Regions from separate parts of the Homo sapiens genome. Here region 2 is linked to region 1. Evidence: fine-mapped expression QTL. A gene starts in region 1. The other region holds a variant in brackets. All regions are shown on one strand. Distances are between the middles of the regions. Region 1 holds the start of ICMT (isoprenylcysteine carboxyl methyltransferase). Region 2 overlaps ACOT7 (acyl-CoA thioesterase 7).

Region 1 (2,795 bases):
AAATCACCAAGAGTGCCACTACCTAAAGATAGGCCAGGGGTGGTGGCTCATACCTGTAATTCCAGTGCTTTGTGAGGCTGATTGGAGGATCACTTGGGCCCAGGAGTTCCAGACTGCCGCACTCCAGCCTGGCCAACACAGTGAGACCCTGTGTCTAAAAAAGAAAAAAAGAAAAAAAAAAGGTACATATATAGTCGGCGTTATACCATTTTGGCTGATAGCTTGATCATTTTCCCAGGCTCAGATACCTGCCCTTTTTCCCCAAGTGAAGTCAGGATCACACCGAAAAGCTTTGCCTCCTGCTATTTAAAAACCTAATATAGGCAGGGCGCGGTGGCTCACGTCTGTAATCTCAGCACTTTGGGAGGCCGAAGCGGGCGGATCACGAAGTCAGGAGATGGATCCCGGCTAACACGGTGAAACCCCGTCTCTACTAAAAATACAAAAAAATAAGACGGGCGCAGTGGCGGGCGCCTGTAGTCCCAGCTACTCGGGAGGCTGAGACAGGAGAATGGCGTGAACCCGGGAGGCGGAGCTTGCAGTGAGCCGAGATCGCACCACTGCACTCCAGCCTGGGCGACAGAGCGAGACTCCGTCTCAAAAAAAAAAGAAAACCTAACATATCCTGAGCATTCCCATCACCGTCCAGCCTTGTTCCACAACAGGAATTTAAGCGGGCGGTGGTCCCGTTGCATGGATGCCCAGGTGCCGTTGTCCAGGCCGGTTTCCAGGGAGCCGCAGAGGGAGGGCAGGAGGTCGCCGCACTTGGCCCCGCGCCCCAGGGCGTCTGGTTTTCGGGGACGACGCAGGGCCGGCGAGGGTGCGGCCGTTTCAAAATTTTTTTTTTTGAGATGGAGTGTCACTCTGTCACCCAGGCTGGAGTGCAGTGACACAATCTCGGCTCACTGCAACCTCCGTCTCCCCGGATCAAGCGATTCTCCTGCCTCAGCCTCACCAAGTAGCTGGGGTTAAAGGCGTGCGCCACCACGCCCAGCTAATTTTTGTATTTTTAGTATAGACGGCGTTTCCCCATGTTGCCCAGGTTGGTCTCGAACTCCTGACCTCAAATGATTCGCCAGCCTCGGCCTCCCAAAGTGCTGGGATTACAGGCGTGAGCCACCGCGCTCGGCTCGTTTCAAACTTTACATTGCTTCTTGGGACAGGAACCTCCTGAGTTTGGGACTAAGTTTGGACAGACGCGGGCGGCGACTTCTCCCACCACTTCCCGGCCCCCGCCCGGCACAGAGTCTGGCTCAGAGCCCGGATGTCCCCGAGGGGCGGGGAGGGGCGGGCGGGCGGGGCGCTCCCGCCAAATTCCGGACAGCAACAGGGCGGGCCGGAGTTCTCGCGAGAACTGGCAGGCGGCGCGCAGCTGCGGGCAGCTGCCCTTCCCGGGCCGGCATCGGCGGCACAGTGCGCAGGCGCAGCCGGCGCGTTTCTCCGGGCTACAGCCGGCGCCGCCGCCCGCTAGTCCGCCGCCCGGCGCCATGGCGGGCTGCGCGGCGCGGGCTCCGCCGGGCTCTGAGGCGCGTCTCAGCCTCGCCACCTTCCTGCTGGGCGCCTCGGTGCTCGCGCTGCCGCTGCTCACGCGCGCCGGCCTGCAGGGCCGCACCGGGCTGGCGCTCTACGTGGCCGGGCTCAACGCGCTGCTGCTGCTGCTCTATCGGCCGCCTCGCTACCAGGTGCAGGCCGGCGGGGGCCGGCGGGGGCCGGCGGGGCGGGCGGCGGTCCGCTTGGCGCGGCGCGTGGGCACCTTTCTCCCCGGGCCCGCAGTGGCCTCCCACGCGCGCGCTCTTCATCCGCGAGTTCAGGTCGCAGGAGGGGACCCTCTCTCTCCGGGCTCGGGCGCCCTGCACCCGAGGAGTGGGTTGTTAAATTGCAGCTTGTGCAGCTCAGCAGGTGCGCGTGGGGTGGAGTGAGCGAGCCCGCGAGTGCTTTTATGTAACTTAAGGTGCAGAGACCTACCTGCTGCCCTGTCTCAGGTCAAAGGCCCCGCAGTGACGTGGGTGGGGCTGGGCGCACAGGCCCGGGTGCCCTGACCTCATAAACTAGGCTTAAGCAGTTTTCCTACAGCCCTGAATAGTAATCACGAATAATAATAATAATGACAGCTAAAATGTAGGTAGCAGTTAGTCTTAAGTGTTTTACGTGGGTAATCCTTACTGCAGTCCTAAAAGGTAGGTACTGTTATCCCCTGGCTGTAGATGGGGAAGCAAGCTCAGAGAGGTTAAATAATTTGGGAGGCCACACAGCCAGAGAGCGGTGGGTGCAGAATTTGAACCCAGGTCGCCCACTTCTCCCTTTCAACCTCAGCAAATCGGCTCTATCTGCTTGCCTGTGGGTTGCCTATTCCGGGAAGGTCAGCAGCCCAGATCTGTACTCTGAGGACTGTGAATGACTGAGCTTCTCTTGGGTTCCTTTCAGATAGCCATCCGAGCTTGTTTCCTGGGGTTTGTGTTCGGCTGCGGCACGCTGCTAAGTTTTAGCCAGTCTTCTTGGAGTCACTTTGGCTGGTAAGAATTCCTTCGGAAATACTGGTTTTCAGGCGAGGGTGGACAGATCAGAGGGTCTGTAGCGGCATTTCCTCATCCCTGTCTCATCTGTGACCGGCAGAAGGCTGTTCAGGGTTCTCTGGAAACGAAGTCTCCTGGCTTCCCCCTAGTTGCTCACATTTCAGCCCTTGTGATTTCGTGCCTGTGGGTTGATTGTGAATCAGGCAGAAACAGATCTCCCTGGCACCCCCAAAGGTGCTGTCATCCGCAGCTGTGGTGACAGCATTCCGTAACTTGAGCAGC
Region 2 (2,795 bases), 29 kb before region 1:
TCCTCTGGCTGACTGCGCTCTCTCTTGCCAATATACCATTTGTCTATGAAACACTTAGGCCCAAAAATAGCTGTACAGTTTGGTGTCATTGTGGATGAAATGAAGGGCAACTGCCCCATCTCTTTGGCTTTCAGACACCCTCAAAATGTTGCGATGAAATGTCCCAGAGGAATTAGCACAGCTCATTAAACCTGAATTCCCAGCCAGGGTGGGGCCAGTCAGAACATGGCGTTGGGACAGATGGGACATCAGAAGTGACCACCTAATACTCCAGGGGTGGCACCTGCCCAGGGGCCACAAGACAGAGTGAAAGGGGGTGCCGTTCATAATCGCAGCCCGTCGACAGGCATGAACCAGGACCGTCCTGGGCAGAACCCCGTCTTGGGCCAAATCCCACCTGTTCAGTTGGCTCTGCCCCCAGACCAATGAGATGGGGTCCCTGGGGTCCAAGGTGCCGCCTCCTGAGTGTACGGTCCAGAGCGTGGTGACAGGGCTCCCTCCCAACAAAGCAGGCCTATTGCTCCCAGTACGGGGCGGGGCCTTCTCAAGGCCATAGGCAGCACAGCATCTGCCCACTTCTCGCTGGGGCAATGGCCGTGTGCAGCTGGCTTTCCCCACTTCTCTCCGGGGCGGTGACCGTGTGCAGCTGGCTTTCCCCACGTCTCTCTGGGGCAGTGACCGTGTGCAGCTGGCTTTCCCCACTTCTCTGCGGGGTGGTGACTGTGTGCAGCTTTCCTGGGAGTGCAGCGAATGCAGGGTCCCTCTTCCTTTCCACTTCCGTTCAGCTCCCATGTTTCATTATCAAGTGCATTTTCCACCGAAGTCCAGTAGCAAACAGGCCCTGGGCTTGGAGGTCACCTGCTGTGAAAGGTGGTGAGAGGATGTCACAGGGCTCGGCACTTCACTGACTGCTTCTGACCCGCCATGCCCTTAGTGTCTCCTCTATGGAGCTCTGCCACCTGTGGCTCCTGCGGCCCCTCAAAGCATCTTGGCTGAACATACCCAGCCCAGTCAATAGGCCCATCAGCGAGGTGGGACATGAGCCCCATGCCTGGGCTACCCGGCAGTCCCAGGAGGCCAGCGGGGCCGAGGCGTGGTACTCAGCATGCACCAGGGGTGGGGCAGATCCCACGGGTGGGGGGCAGGGCCCCAGGCCAGGTCACAAGGCCACGGCACTGGTTCTGCAGTGACCCTAACCTGCCTGTCTCTGTGTGTGGTCCACAGCCCGAGAC[C/T]GAGGACGAGAAGAAGCGCTTTGAGGAAGGCAAAGGGCGGTACCTGCAGATGAAGGCGAAGCGACAGGGCCACGCGGAGCCTCAGCCCTAGACTCCCTCCTCCTGCCACTGGTGCCTCGAGTAGCCATGGCAACGGGCCCAGTGTCCAGTCACTTAGAAGTTCCCCCCTTGGCCAAAAACCCAATTCACATTGAGAGCTGGTGTTGTCTGAAGTTTTCGTATCACAGTGTTAACCTGTACTCTCTCCTGCAAACCTACACACCAAAGCTTTATTTATATCATTCCAGTATCAATGCTACACAGTGTTGTCCCGAGCGCCGGGAGGCGTTGGGCAGAAACCCTCGGGAATGCTTCCGAGCACGCTGTAGGGTATGGGAAGAACCCAGCACCACTAATAAAGCTGCTGCTTGGCTGGACCCACGTGTCCTGGGTGGTCATTTGTCTTGGGGGGGCTGCTTTCCCAGGGGGTGTGGGACATTGGGGCTCCCGTGGACAGTCTCAGCCCTCCCAGCACCAGCACCTGCATGTACCCTAGAACCTCAGGCACAGCCACACCGATTGGTGTCCGGCTGGTGACTTGCTGGCTATGAATGCCCATTTCCCGTGGGTCCCTGGTTTGGTGTCCTGGCCCCAGACACCCTGGCTCCCTGGACCTCATAGGCAGCCCAGATGCTGGGAGGATGTGGGCTCAGGGCCACGCTGCCTGGTGGGAGTGCCAGCACCCCACAACCCCCCTGTCTGGCTTGCAGAGGATGCCGGCTCTGAGCCTGTGTGGCTTTCCTATGAACAGGGTGGGGCTGCTGGGAAAGACTCAGCGAGGTGATGGTGTGGGAAGAGCCAAATGTGGCCTGGCTCAGCGTGTGGGAGCCCCACCCTGACCCAGCCTCTTGCTAGAAACTGCCTAGACACCCCAAAATCCTGTCTGAAGGAGCCCCCCAGCTGGCGCCAGGACTCTGTGCCTGACGTGGAAACTCCCCCAGCCACTCAGGCAGGAGTCTGCTGGGATGGCTTATAGGGCAGGGGTCTGAGGGACAGCACGAATGTGTGTCAGTGCCGTTGGTGTGAAGCTGTGGGCATACGTGTCACTGACATATCTGTGCATGTGCGTGTGCATCTGTCTGCATATCTGTGAGCACGTGTGTGGTGAGGGTATCGGTGTAGCAGGGTTGATCTGTGCATCTGGCCCAGCCAAGGCCACTACAGGGACCAGGACCCCACCTGCATCCATGGCTGAAAAGGAGGCCCTCCAATCAAGCACACCCAGAAGTGGCATCTGGGAGAATGTTCCCAATTCAGTCTGTCCCTGAAGCCCCAACATCTGTCCTGCCGCCTGGAGAAGACTGGCCCGTCAACAGCTGCGGCCTCGCACAAGGCTCCCTCTGGCCCCTGGAGAGCGAGGACTCGGCTCCAGATGTGCAGAAACACCAGCCAAGAGCTTGGGAATCTGTCCCGGGCCCCAGTCACGGCTGACGGGGTTATTTCCTGTCTGGGAGGGGGTTGGAGGTGGGAGGGACAAGCTCAGCCACATGAAGCTTCTGCCACGCCACCATGCCCCTTGGCCCC

Evidence for each region. PIP is the estimated chance that this variant, and not a neighbour inherited with it, causes the effect.
Region 2: its variant is fine-mapped to the expression of ICMT in whole blood (INTERVAL, PIP above 0.99).

The regions. Positions count from the first base shown.
Region 1 is chr1:6,234,604-6,237,398 of GRCh38, reverse strand. It overlaps ICMT (isoprenylcysteine carboxyl methyltransferase), which reads left to right and starts at 1,435. Exons shown (of 5, transcript NM_012405.4): 1 at 1,435-1,682; 2 at 2,425-2,513. The coding sequence starts at 1,488. ICMT-DT (ICMT divergent transcript) reads right to left here and starts at 1,159. Exons shown (of 5, transcript NR_103534.1): 1 at 1,063-1,159; 2 at 249-433; 3 at 54-154. RefSeq lists an enhancer at 230-1,202 and silencers at 1,167-1,496, 1,707-1,766.
Region 2 is chr1:6,263,125-6,265,919 of GRCh38, reverse strand. ACOT7 (acyl-CoA thioesterase 7) reads left to right here. Exons shown (of 9, transcript NM_007274.4): 9 at 1,225-1,648. The coding sequence ends at 1,323. Among named protein-coding and RNA genes, the nearest start is that of GPR153, 3.4 kb to the right of the region's middle. The variant C/T (reference allele first, on the strand shown) is at 1,233.